2 linked regions of the Homo sapiens genome follow. The protein of the gene in region 1 interacts with the protein of each later gene in a biochemical or structural test. Each region holds a gene or a part of one and is shown on either strand. Other genes may lie near its edges.

Region 1 (6,851 bases):
GGGGCATGTGGTTTCCACTCCTCCCAGCACCCAAACCTGCTCTGGTTGGGTTCGTAGGGCAGAGAATCAAACAGTTCTCACCTTGGGTGGTAGTCTCGCCATTTGTCCCTGCCAGGGGGACCACGCCCTTGTCTACCTGTTGGGGTCAGGGTAACAACATTAAGACACAGGAAATGACCTCTAGCACCCTTTCCACTGTCGCCCCGGCTGGAGTACAGTGGTGGAATCTCAGCTCACTGAAGCCTCCACTTCCTGGACTCAAGTGATCCTCCCGCCTCAGCCTCCTAGGTAGCTGGGCGTGCCCCTCTTTCCTCTTCTTTAGCCCCAGTCTTCCCCCACATTTACTTAATCCCTTAAACTGCATCTCAGGGCTGGCAAATATTTTCACTTAGTTACAATTAAAATATTTAGTTACTTAAGCCGGGCATGGTGGCTCACGCCTGTAATCCCAGCACTTTGGGAGGCCGAGGTGGGCAGATCACGAGATCAGGAGATCGAGACCATCCTGGCTAACATGGTGAAACCCAGTGTCTACTAAAAATACAAAAAAAATTAGCCGGGTGGTGGCGGGCGCCTGTAGTCCCAGCTACTCGGGAGGCTGAGGCAGGAGAATGGCGTGAACCTGGGAGGCGGAACTTGCAGTGAGCCAAGAGATCGCACCACTGCACTCCAGCCTGGGAGACAGCGAGACTCCATCTCAAAAAAAAAAAAAAAAAAAATTTACTTAAAATGTTTAGTTACTCAAATACTTAGTTACAATTAAATTAAAATATTTTCACTTAGTTCACTTAGTAACAATCCTCTGAGACAGGATACACTGGGATGTTATTTGACAACAGAAATGTTGAGTGAATTGGGTGTCAGACTGGGGCTCTGCCACTTACTCTGAGCAAAACACTTCACTTCCCTGAGCTTCTGAGATTTTCATGTGTAAAGTGGGAATGATACTGTTCTCTCAGAATTGTGAGGATTAAAAATGTCGAGTAAATGCCCTAAGCCTGAAGCAGGCTCCATGCAAGTCTCTAGGCCACCAATCCAGCATTCATTCCCTGCCTCACTAACCTGGATTTCCTTCCTCCACTTCCATCTCAAACCTCACGTCCGGAGGCCCTCCCCTTACCTTGATGCCCACAACACCGCCCTTGGATTTGATAACTTGGGGGAAGGGACGCCCATCATCCGCCTTCTGGTAGAGTGTCTCATGGAAGAGGATGACACCCCCAATGCAGGGGTTCACGCGGTCGTCAGCTGTCAGCAGCAGCTGGCGGTAGAAGCGCCGGTTCTCCTCGGTGTTCTCGGTGCCAATGGACTGCAGCCGCTTGGCAATGCTCCCTGGGAGTGTCACATGGGAATTAGGGGATCAGCCTGCCACTCCCAACCCTGCACCCTCCACCCATTCTGTCTCCTGCCCGCACCAGTGGACTCATCTGCAGCCAGGATGCCCTTGCCAGGTGCCACGATGCGGTGAGCGATGTCAGACAGCTCCTTCTTCTGCTCCGGGGTCAGTGCTGGATATTGGTAGGGCATGGTGCTGGTAGTAGCAAGTTCCTGGATACAGGAAACAGAGGGGAAGGACTAGTTAGCTAGGGTTTCCCATCATCTCCCGATGACCAGGGCCCCTCTCCTGGAGGTCAGGGAAATGTTCCCTACCTCCCCTGCCCCACACCCAGCAGGCCCTGGGGCACTTCTGGTCCCCAGCTCTCTCTTACGCCCAACTTCCCTTTGCTAGGCCTGCCCCTGTACCTTTCCTAACTCTGTCTGGTGCTGGGTGTTGCCCAGCTGAGGGTGGAGTTGCCCACTGGCAACTGGGGGAAAGGAAAAGGCCATAGCCATGGACAGGTGGGTCATGTTGAAGCTGGACCCTTCTGGCTTGCGCCTTGCCATGGGGTCACCTTGCCTGAAAACAAAACCGAACCGGAGTATTTTAGAATGTAAAGATCGTGAATCAAGCAGAGGGCCCAACACCCTCGTGGGAAAGGGCCCAGATATGGGAAAGGTCTGTGCTTCAAGCCACACAGCAACCCCGGAGCCAGATCTGAGATTAGAACCCAGCTCTTCTGACTGCCACTGGGGTGTTCCTTCCAATCCCCTCAAGATCCCAGGGCTGGCCCGGGCTCCAAGGCTTCAAGGACATCCCAAGGTCAGGCTTTTCCCCACAAGGGAGGGGGCGGGTGGTAGGAAAGGGGCATTAGGAAAAATATAAGAGAGCAAGGAGAAGCCCAGGAAAGGGCGGCGGAACAAGCCCTAGCCCGAGGCGAGGAAAGCGGTAAGCTTTGCCATCGTCACTGTTCCTACGGGGCAAGAACGTGGAGGAGCAAGCGCCTTCCCCTGAAAAATGCTCCCGTCGCTTCGCATGGCTGCAGCTGTTCCGGGCTCAGAATCAAGGTCGCCCGATAAGGAGAGACAGGGAAAGTGTTAAGGGGGCATCAAGCACCGCGGAGGGGTTTCCCTCCTCGCGAAGGGCGCCCCGTTTCCCAGGACAGAAACCAAGCTCCCACTTGCGAGAACCCTGGGGCTGTACATGGGCCGGCCCCCACCCCTCACTGCCTCTTAGGATCCCCGCCAGGGCTAAGGGGCCCTAATCCTTTGCCACAGGGGTCCCTGCAAGAAAAGGGGGAGAATGGTCCTTCATCTCGTCCGGCTTCCTCCCCCGCCATGACTCAGCGCGCGCAGCCGCTGCATTGCGCAGTTAGAGGACCTCAGGCTGGAGGGGCCGGGGAGCCTGTGTGTGCCTGGTAGTGGGGAGACGCTGGCATGGGATGGGGGAGGCCTCCACGCGGACGCCCAACCCGCCACTGCCCCCAAGATCCCTCTCCACGGTCCCTGGTCCCCGCACGTGAAGAGGGGCGCTCACCTGGCACAGGAGAGGGGCGGGTGTGCAGGGTGCGGCGGCAGAGGGCGGCGGGCTGGCGAGTGGATTCAAGGAGAGAACGCGGGACTCGTCACCAGGACCCCTTCTGCGGCGCGTTCCGAGAGGAACGCAGCCGATTTAGCCTCGGAAGGGGCGGCGCAGGAGGCGGGCAGGCGGAAGGCGGCGCCCGGCCTTTTAAAGGCACCACTCCGCCCTCCGCCGAGCTTTTTCCTTTACGAGGAGCGGGCGGCGTCCAATGGCAGGCGACGGACTGGGCTACGGGCCGCCCCCGAGAGGCGCAGCCCAGAGGCCGCGCTAGGAAGGGGCGGGCGCCGAGAACACGATCCCTCCCCACCCCCCTCGGACGTGACTCGGACCACATCCCGCGGGTCGCTAGGGCCCTCCCTTCTGCTCCTTTCCCCCAGCCTGGCGCGCTCTGGGGCGCCGTGACTCAGCCAGAATGTTGGCAATGGGGGAGGGCGGAACGGGGAAGTGGAGGACGCGGATGGAAAAGTCGGAAACGAAGGAAGCTGAGTTTCGCCTCCCAGGCCCAGCGCGCGCGGCCCGGGGCCGCCCCAGCTTCCGGTCTTCGCGGCTGCAGCGCGTGTCACCATAGGGGCCACATCGCGCAGTCGTGCGTTAGCCTGCCTCGCCCGCGGGCTGAATCGGCGCGGAGCCGACACCCTGTCACTGGCCCAGGCGTAAGGGAGGCGGAGGAAAGGGCATCGAGAGGACACGCAGGGAGCGCGAGAAGGCGGCGGAACTAGCGGCGCGCGGAGGCGAGACCTCCCCATCCGAGTTCCAGGCTGGCAGGCCGGGCTGGGTCGCGCATGCGTGCGCGCTCTCCGCCGGGCCGCCGCAGCCAGGCTGGTAGTCCTCTGCGCCACAGAAAACCAGAATGCGCGGCTATGCACCGGCCGCTGCTCGGCCTCTGGCATGCGGGGTCACAGTTCCTGCCAAACGTCTTCCTTGAGCCTGACTTCCTTCTCCAAAAGAAAATCCGTCCCCGAACTGATCTGCCTCCCAGATGCTGAGCCCCCTGCTCCTATCGTCCAAATCTCCCCTCCTCACCTGGACCCCATCTGGACCCTGTTGGCCCAACCCCAACCCCATCCCCACCCCGGCCCGGTCCTGCAAGGGGCCCACCTGCGGCGAGGCCGAAGGAGCCGGCAGAGCCTGGTCAGCAGCGAGTGAGCTAGGGGTTCCCGGGCTGGTTATAAGGCAGCTCCTGCCCGCCCCACATGTGTCCCCGATCTTCTCTAATGACCCCTGCCCTTTTCCCGCCACGGATCCTCTGGCAGGGACCTATATTTAGGGAAACCTGAAGCCCCTGACATTCACACTATCGTGGGGCCCGGCATGGGGGAAGGGGGAGGAAGACTTGGGTCGGCCCTATTGATGGGGAGGGAGCCCCTGCCCACTCACCGGTGCTTCAGAGGAAATTCTTCCTTGGAAATCCAGACGGAGGCCCTTGGTTGTCAAGAGAAATAAATCTTTGGCCAGGGACCTGTGGGAAGGAAAGGGGTGAGGGGACTCGGATCACGTGGCCTCCCTGCCACCCTCCCTGGCTCCTTCTCTAATCTCCCTCCTCCCTTGACTCCCTGCGGTGATGGTGGCTGTTCTGATTCTCTGGAGCCCTGGTTTTTTTTAAGAAGGAGAGTAGATACTGGCACTACACTCACCTCCTAAAATAACGGAGAGTCCGTGGACGGAGTGTGGTTGAGGCACCCCTGCGTACCCGGTACTCAAGGGCCAGACTCCTCCTATAACACTTGTGTGTGGTGAGCAGCGCCACCCCCCTGCCCAACTTCAAATAGAATCGTTGACGTGTGGAGGGGAAGGGAAGCCAGGGCACCTGCCCGAGCACTAGCCCCTCTCTTTTCTGGCCCTCCAGAGGAGCTGCCGTCCAGCCGGCCAAGAGTCCTGCCCTGCAGGGAGCCAGGCCCTGCGCTGCCACTTCCAGTTCCCAGGCCTGGGTGCTCGGCAGGCCATCTGTGGTTCCAGTGGCGTGGGGAAAGGCTCTTCAGGGAGGAGGGCACATGGGCCCTGGGGGCTGGCCGCTCCCCAGAGGGCAGGGGCCCTGGGTCCTCATCGGAGCTTGATCTCGAAGCAGAGACAGTTGAGGCTCTGGCAGTCGGGGAGCTGGCACGTACAGGCACAGTCGCAGAGTGGGCAGCAGCGGGGGCAGCGAGGTGCCCAGTCCTGAGGGAGGAGAGAGAGGGTTGAGGGAGGTGGGATGGGGCCACGTCTGTTGCTCTCTAAGGGGAGAAGGGAACAGAGAGGCCTGGGAAATCTCACTTGCCCAGTGGAACAGAGGGTACTGTCCATCATTCCCAGGAACAGTGCAATTCCCTGTGCTGTTGAAAAATCAGCAGTGAGTCCTTGTTCTGAACAACTGAGTTCAGAAGCTAGAAGCAATGATTCAGGGTTCTCTCCTTCCCATTTTATGGGTGAGGAGACTGAGGACCAGAGAGCAACTGGCCCTGGGTCCCGTGCTAGAATTTGGGCCTCCCGGTGTCAAGCTCAAAAGATGGTTCTGCTACAGTCCCGGGGTCTGTGCAGTTGAGGCAGTAGACAGAGAAAGCACACACATTTTTCTGTCCATCATGAAAATGACTTGTGGGCTTTATGGACTTCTTCAGCATGAGACCAAAATAGAGGGTCTCATTCACCATTTTTGAGCATCTACTCTGTGCAACGAACAGACCGCATTCATGAATGATTTTAAAAATCTTTACAGGTATCTTTGAAAATGGCAATTTACCTATTTTTAATTTTTTTTTTTTTTTTGAGACAGGGTCTCACTCTGTTGCCCAGGGTGGAGTGCAATGGTGCGATCTTGGCTCACTGCAACCTCCACCTCCTGGGTTCAAGTAGTTCTGCCTCAGCCTTCTGAGTAGCTGAACTACAGGCGTGAGCCACCACACCCAGCTAATTTTTGTATTTGTAGTAGAGATGGGGGTTTCACCATGTTGGTCAGGCTGGTCTCGGAACTCCTGGCCTCAGATGATCCACCTGCCTCAGCCTCCCAAAGTGCTAAGATTAAAGGAGTGAGCAACTGTGCCCGGCCATTTTTTTTTTTTTTTTTCCGAGATGGAGTTTCACTCCTGTTGCCCAGGCTGGAGCACAATGGCGTGATCTCCACTCACTGCAACTTCCACCTCTGGATTCAAGCGGTTCTCCTGCCTCAGCCTCCCAAGTAGGTGGGATTACAGGCATGTGCCACCACACTTGGCTAATTTTGTATTTTTAGTAGAGACAGGGTTTCGCTATGTTGACCAGGCTGGTCTTGAATTCCTGACCTCAGGTATCTGCCCGCCTTGGCCTCCCAAAGTGCTGGGATTACAGGCATGAACCACCGTGCTCGGCTCATTTTTTGTACTTTTTTTTTTTTTTTTTTGAGACGGAGTCTCGCTCTGTTGCCAGGCTGGAGTGCCATGGCGCGGTCTCGGCTCACTGCAACCTCCGCCTCCTGGGTTCAAGCGATTCTCCTGCCTCAGCCTCCCAAGTAGCTGGGATTACAGGCACGTGCCACCACGCCTGGCTAATTCATTTTTTGTATTTTTTTGTAGAGACAGGGTTTCATCATGTTGCCCAGGCTAGTCTCAAACTCCTGGGCTAAACCCACCTTGGTCTCCCAAAGTGCTGGGATTACAGGCATGCGCCACTGCGCCCAATCAATTTTAATGTTTTCAAAAGAATTAGATCTATTTGTTTGTTTGTTTTTTCAAACGGAGTCTTGCTCTGTCACCCAGGCTGGAGTGCAATGGTGGGATCTCAGCTTGGGGCAACCTCTGCCTCCCGGGTTCAAGTGATTCTCCTGTCTCAGCCTCCTGAGTAGCTGGGATTACAGGCGCCCGCCACTACACCCAGCTAATTTTTGTATTTTTAGTAGAGACAGGGTTTCACCATGTTAGTCAGGCTGGTCTCGAACTCCTGACCTCAGGTGATCCGCCCACCTCGGCCTCCCAAAGTGCTGGGATTACAGGTGTGAGCCACC
Region 2 (7,031 bases), on another chromosome or scaffold:
AGGGGTATGTGGGAGTCTTGTACTTGGCCTTGGTGGTCTGACGTGGAGGGATGGCAGAGTCAGCAGGAGGTGCCAATCTGCCCTGGCTCCCTCCCTACCTCCAGCCCCTATCGGAGGGAATGAACACCTTGGTGAAGTTCCAGCGCTGGATGAAGTGCCGGGCAAGGTCCCGGGCCGGTAGGCCATGGACGACCACCCCAACGTCCCGCCATGGCATCCGAGGGGTCGTCTCCCTGTCAATGAAATCTGGGGGGTCCCAGGAGAGTCAGGGGAGATGTCAGGGCTGGACTCCTTGGGACACTTGGGGCAGGGAGAAAGAGCCTGCCAGAGGGAGGGCTGTACCACCGTTGACCCCTCTCATCCCACTCTCAGTACCAGCCCCAGCTTCTGACCCTGCTCTCAGCTCTCTGGGGCTTTGGCGGGTGGGAGGCTTCACCTTCGAAAGGCCGGTCCAGCTGCACCCAGTCCTTGGTGATAAGATTGCTGTAGTCCTTGCCCAGCCAGAAGAATTGGTTGTGAGAGAGGTCTGGGGTGGCTGGTGAGTCTGGGCGCGGGGTGGGAGGCTGTAGGGGGAACACACCCAAGCCAGGGGCAAGGGGAAGTCATGGGGCTGTACAGAGCCAGGGCCAAAGAGAGGAGCACTGAAAGAGTGAGAGAGACCGAGAGGAAGAATGAAACAGAGGGTCTGATTCCCCAGCCCTCCCCTCCAGTTGCCTTTGACACTTTTAGAGGAATGGGGTGATGGTCAGTGAAAATGGGGAAAGGACTGGGTGGGTGACAGCACTTTTTTTTTTTTTTTTGAGACAGAGTCTCGCTCTGTTGCCCAGGGTGGAGTACAATGGCACAATCTCGGCTCACTGCAACCTCCGCCTCCTGGGTTCAAGTGATTCTCCTGCCTCAGCCTCCCGAGTAGCTTCAATGACAGGCAACTGCCACCATGCCCAGCTAATTTTTTGCATTTTTAGTAGAGACAGGGTTTCACCATGTCGGTCAGGCTGGTCTCGAACTCCAGACCTCAGGTGATCCACCCGCCTTGGCCTCCCAAAGTGCTGGGATTACAGGCATAAGCCATGGCTCCCGGCCAGTTACAGCACTTTCAAAGTGGGTTCTTGGAGTCCCAGAAAGTCTGAGGAACCCTGAGGTTGGCAGGGCCTGGAATGACTGAGGGGGTAAGGCTGGAGCTGGGAAATGGTGTTGATTGAGCTTATCTGAGTTTGGGGGTGCTCAGGAAGGCCTCAGGGGGATTACCTGGGAGGCAGCTGATTCAGAGGAGTCTCCAAGGTCAGTCAGTCGGTAGTGCAGGTCATCCCAGCGGCCATAGGCAAGGTCCAGTCCCCCCAGGAATGCTACCACTTGGTCCACCACCAGGAGCTTCTCATGATGGGCCCACAACGTCACTTGGTCTGGGTGACGCATCACCTGGAGCAGGCATGGAGGGTTCATGAGGGTGGGTTTAGGTGAAGGAAAACAGGAGGTACTGGGAGGGAGAGAGGAAAGATGGAAAGATGAGACCATCAGGGAGCGGGAGCGCTGGGGGCTGGGACAGTGTGGGGAGAAGGGCTGTCATGTGGGAGGGTCTCTGAGGCCGAGAGTCACCTTTATGTTGGGGTGCAGCAGCATCAGCGCCCTCTTGCTATAGCCACTGTTGATGCCCAAGGCCAATTCCACTTCTTTAAACAGCAGAATAGACACACGGACACCCTCCTCCTGGTGGTGAGTTGGGGAATCAGATCCTAGTGCCTCTCCCAGAGTAGCCCCTTTCCACACTCCCAAACCTTTTCCACGTGTGTCCCTCCAGCTTGTCTGGAGATCCTAGAGGCTCTGCCACATATGCCCTGCTTTGCTGCTTGCCACAGACTTAGACTAAATGTCATCTGTGTGCTCACCCACTCACCCATCCACACATCTATCCACCCACCCTTCATCATCCATCCATCCATCTTCCCAAGCATTTACTCATCCCTTTATGTACCGTCTATCATTCATCCATCTACCTGCCTACCCTCCTAGCCCTCCACCTTTCCAACTCATATCCTTCCATCCATCACCCTTTCTGTCCTCTATCCATCCACCTGCCCAGCCACCCTGCATCATCCATGCATCCTTCTTCCTGTCCATCAACACCACACATGCCCCCTCCATGGCAGGTACTGTGCCTTGTAGTGGAACAGTGATATTAACTAGTCCAGTGAGAGAGATAGACATGTATACCCCCAGATAACACAATAAAGTATTATGTATACTGGGAGGGAAGTCTCTGCCAGGTGGAGGGAGCATGAAGAGGAAGTTGTCAGTTCTCCTTAGGGCAGAGGGAGAGGGCGGAGGTGATGTCTGACAGGTGCTGGGCCAGGATGGACACTTTTCCCTCCCCTGAAGCCTCAGACTGCCTAATTCTCCCACACTGCAGCCCTGCTAATCAACCTCCACCCACAGGCAACCCCCTCCCCCTGCGGCCTGACCACTCTCCTCACCGCCTTCCTCTTGAGCATAATGTCCAGTCTCCAGTCATCTGAATGGGCCGGACGCTTCAGGTAAACCTCAGGACTCAACCTGGGATTCAGGGCAGTGGATTAGGGGCAAACGAAGCCCCAGACCACCAGCTGCACCCCCCTTCTCCTCCTAATGCTGATCTGCCCCAGGCTCTATCCTGCCCCATGTTGTTGGGGCCTTTTCCCACTCACCACCAGTCTGTGATGAAAATCTCCTCTTGAGCTCGAAGGATGGCATCTGCCACAGCAGCAAAGTAACCTGCCCCATTCACAAACCTGGGGGGAGGCCAAGCCAAGGAGGTCAGGGGAGTCAGAAGCCAGAAAGCTCTGGAGAGTGAAGACCGGAGGACAGTCGTGGGTCAGAGGTGACAGCAAGGTCAAAGATCAGAAATGATCAGAGAACACAAGTGGTATCAGACACATCAAAATAGTGTTTGCCCATATGCGCTAAATACAAATAAAAATTACAAAAAGACACAATAACCTAATCAACTAAAGAACAGGAGGATTAATACATCATACATAAAGAACACCAATAAATCGACAAGAAAAAGTCACATGAGCCAACTGAAAAATGAGCAAAGAGTAAGAACTGACAGTTCACAGAGAAATTAAAATGGCCAATCGTGGCAAATGTTCAGTTTCACTAGTAAACAACGAAATTAAAATGAAATTACATTTAAAAAATCCATTAGATTGGTAATAATTCAAATCACTGGTAACATTCAATATCAATATTCAATATGCTGGGGAAGTGGGTATTCTCATAGACTATGGGAATATAACTTTTAGGAGACAATTTGGCAGTATCAAAAAATATATATATAGCTTTTTGGAGATGGTGTCCCGCTCTGTCACCCAGGCTGGAGTGCAATGGCATGATCTTGGCTCACTGCAACCTCCGCCTCTTGGGTTCAAGCAATTTTCCTGTCTCAGCCTCCCAAGTAACTGAAATTACAGGCGCCCGCCACCACGCCTGGCTAATTTTTGTATTTTTAGTAGAGACGGGTTTTTGCCATGTTGGCCAGGTTGGTCTTGAACTCCTGACCCCAATGATCTACCCGCCTCGGCCTCCCAAAGTGCTGGGATTACAGGCATGAGCCAAAGCGACTGGTCAGCAGTATCAAAATATTAAATGCATATACCCTTTAATATCATTAAATATACATGGTAATTACATGTCTAGGAATACATCTAATACAATGCCTAGGCAAATGTTGTGTTCATCACATTGTTTGTAAGAGTGAAAAATGGGAAATAATATAAGTGTCTAATCTCTCACACAGGTATTAAGTGAAAAAATAAGTCACAGAAGAGGTTGCATGATCTCATTTATGTTGAAACAAAAGTAACACGTGCATGCACATGTGAAAATATGCAGGAAGGCTGGGCAAGGTGGCTCATGCCTGTAATCCCAGCCCTTTGGGAAGCCGAAGCGGGTGGATCACTTAAGGTCAGGAGTTCGTGACCAGCCTGGCCAACATGGTGAAATCCTATCTCTACTAAAAATACAAAAATCAGCTGAGCATAGTGGTGCACGCCTGTAATCCCAGCTACTCAGGAGGCCGAGGCAGGAGAATCGCTTGAACCCAGGGGGCAGAGACTGCAGTGAGCTGGTATCGCGCCACTGCACTCCAGCTTGGGCGACAGAGCCAGACTCCATCTCAAAAACCAAACCAAACCAAAACAAAACAAACGAACAAACAAAACTTCCTTCCATGACTGCCCTGTGTGCCTGTGATATTAGCACATGGGACCCTGTGAGATCAGGTGCCACTGACTCCCAGCTTCTCCTCTGACTGCTCCTCCTCACTCAGTAACAACAATATGTCCTGGTGGTTCCCAAACACCCTGAGCTATTTCTGTCTTCTGTGCCTGGACTGTTCTGCATTTTCTTTATCTTGTATAGTTCCATGAGGATCAGCAAGTGTATGTTCCCACGCAATCACCAGTCCTATCAAAATATAGGACATTTTTATCGTCCTGGAATGTTCCCTCGTGTGCCCCACTATAGGCAATCATTTCCCCATACCCTGCCACAGGCAACTGCTGATCTGATTTCCATCACTGTGGATTGGTTTTGGCTGTTTTAGAAGTTTATAGCCAGGTGCAGTGGCTCAAGCCTGTAATCCCAGCACTTTGGGAGGCCGAGGTGGGCAGATCACGAAGTCAGGAGATCGAGACCATCCTGGCCAACATGGTGAAACCCTGGCTCTACTAAAAATACAAAAATTAGCTGGACATGGTGGCATATGCCTGTAATCCTAGCTACTCAGGAGGCTGAGGCAGAAGAATCACTTGAACCGGGGAGTCAGAGGTTGCAGTGAGGTGGGATCCTGCCACTGCACTCCAGCCTGGTGACAGAGACAGACTCCATCTCAAAAAAAAAAAAAAAAAACCAAAACAAAAATTAGCTGGGTGTGGTGGCATGCACCTGTGATCCCAGCTACTTGGGAGGCTGAGGCAGGAGAATCCCTTGAACCTGGGAGGCTGAGGTTGCAGTGAGCTGAGATTGTGCCACTGCACGCTAGCCTGGGCAACAAGAGCGAAACTCTGCCTTAAAAAAAAAAAAGTATATAGGCCAGGCACTGTCGCTCATGCCTGCAATCCAGCACTTTGGGGAGGCCGAGGCAGGATGATCCCTTGAGCCCAGGAGTTCGAGACCACACCCGTCTAATTTTTAAAATTTTTTGTAAAAAAAAATGTTTTTAATTAGCCGGGTGTGGTGGCATGTGTCTGTAGTCTCAGCTACTTGGGAGGCTGAGGCAGGAGGATGATTTGAGCCTGGGAGGTTGAAGTTGCCGTGAGCCATGATCACACTACTGCACTACACGCCTGGTGACAGAGCAAGACACTGTCTCCAACAAAAACCAACAAAATTAATATTGTGTCAGTCTCTGATTTAAAGCAAAACTACCTGAGGGTCACCACCTCCTGGAAACCTGTCCTGATATCCCTGCTGGGCCAGGTACTTCCTGTCTGTGCGTGTCACCTTCTACCTATCACCAGTACGGCAAGTTCACATTGTTTCACGATTTGATCACCTACTTCCCTAACCCAGAGAGGACTGTGTGTTACTGCCAGCACTGCTAGGTGCTTAGAAAAATGTTTATTAAGGCTGGGCACGGTGGCTCACGCCTGTAATCCCAGCACTTCGGGAGGCCGAGGCGGGCGGATCACCCGAGGTCAGGAGTTCGAGAAGAGCCTGGCCAACATGGTGAAACCCCCGTCTCTACTAAAAATACAAAAATTAGCCAGGTGTGGTGGTGGGCGCCTGTAATCCCGGCTACTCGGGAGGCTGAGGCAGAAGAATCGCTTGAACCTGGGAGGCGGAGGTTGCAGTGAGCCGAGATCAACAGAACAAAACTCTCTCTCAAAAAAAAAAAAAAAAAAAAAGAAAAGAAAATGTTTATTAAATGAAGGACTAAATCAGAGAGATTTGAGAAGATCATGGAGAACAGAGAGGGTCAGTATTGTAGAGAGGGGTTTAAAAGGTTATAGGAGGTTAGAGAGGTCAAGGGTCAGAAGAGATGACCAAGTTTGGGGGTCAGAAAGGTCGGCGCGAAATCAGAGAGATCAATGTGGTTAAAGATGTCAAAGGTCAGGAAGATTAAAGAAGTCACGGGGCGGGTCATTGAGGTCAGGAGGGTTCAGATGAGAAAAGAGAGGATGAAGGACTCAGAGATTACACAGGGGGTCAAGAAAGCCACAGACAAGCTCAGAAGGGATGTCAGTGTCTCACCACCGGGCCAAGGTCCCAGGCCGGGGTGGGGCGTAGCTGTCATGCCGGTGCAGCTGTAGGAAGTCTCTGCCTGGGCCCTGTGCCAGCTCAGTGATCTCTTGGGCCCACCACCGTGCCTGCCGGTAGCTGCTGCACTTGAGAATCAAGGACCTGGATGGGAACGATGAGATGTCCATAAATCCTCGCCCTCCATACCTGTGATCTTGCCTAGAGACCTCCCCTTTCCCACTTCCTCCCTTAGTCCCTAATCACAACTGCACAGGGATAGGGCGTGTATGTATCTGCCTTATTTATTTATTTATTTTTGAGACAGAGTTTAGCTCTTGTCCCCCAGGCTGGAGTGCAGTGGTGCGATCTCTGCTCACTGCAACCTCTGCACCCCAGCTTCAAGCGATTCTCCTGCCTCAGCCTCCCAAATAGCTGGGATTACAGGCACGCACCACCACGCCCGGCTAATTTTTGTATTTTTAGTAGAGACAAGGTTTTAGCATGTTGGCTGGGCTGGTCTCGAACTCCTGACCTCAGGTGATCCACCCGCCTCGGCCTCCCAAAGTGCTGGGATTGTAGGTGTGAGCCACCGCGCCCGGCCATATCCACCTTACTCATAGTTGGATCCTAGTATTGCATCAGCAACCAGTATTGTACCAGGCACTCGGGTTTGTTGAATGAACAAATGAACAAATGGAATTTCGTTTATGTCAGCAGTTCCCTTCCCAGGCTTCTACTAATCCCCTTTCTCTGGGCCCAGTCTAAGAGCAGTCCCAAGCATCTGGCTAGACCAGTTCCTGGTTCAAAACTAT

The links. Proteins that work in one complex are often made in the same cells at the same time.
Region 2: the proteins of ALDOA (region 1) and PLD2 form a complex in vitro, tested with the Homo sapiens proteins (one study listed by BioGRID).

The regions. Positions count from the first base shown.
Region 1 is NC_000016.10:30,061,931-30,068,781, reverse strand, and holds the start of ALDOA (fructose-bisphosphate aldolase A), read right to left. Parts: upstream 3,023-6,851; 5' UTR 2,855-3,022; intron 1,898-2,854; 5' UTR 1,885-1,897; coding exon 1,744-1,884; intron 1,549-1,743; coding exon 1,416-1,548; intron 1,333-1,415; coding exon 1,121-1,332; intron 137-1,120; coding exon 82-136; intron 1-81. Other genes in the region: uncharacterized protein LOC112694756, read right to left, coding at 4,940-5,053. UniProt on the Homo sapiens protein: Catalyzes the reversible conversion of beta-D-fructose 1,6-bisphosphate (FBP) into two triose phosphate and plays a key role in glycolysis and gluconeogenesis. In addition, may also function as scaffolding protein.
Region 2 is NC_000017.11:4,810,152-4,817,182, reverse strand, and holds part of PLD2 (phospholipase D2), read right to left. Parts: intron 6,382-7,031; coding exon 6,232-6,381; intron 2,766-6,231; coding exon 2,682-2,765; intron 2,551-2,681; coding exon 2,472-2,550; intron 1,708-2,471; coding exon 1,597-1,707; intron 1,420-1,596; coding exon 1,249-1,419; intron 642-1,248; coding exon of another isoform or gene 603-641; exon of another isoform or gene 564-602; coding exon 437-563; intron 247-436; coding exon 128-246; intron 108-127; coding exon of another isoform or gene 38-107; coding exon 1-37.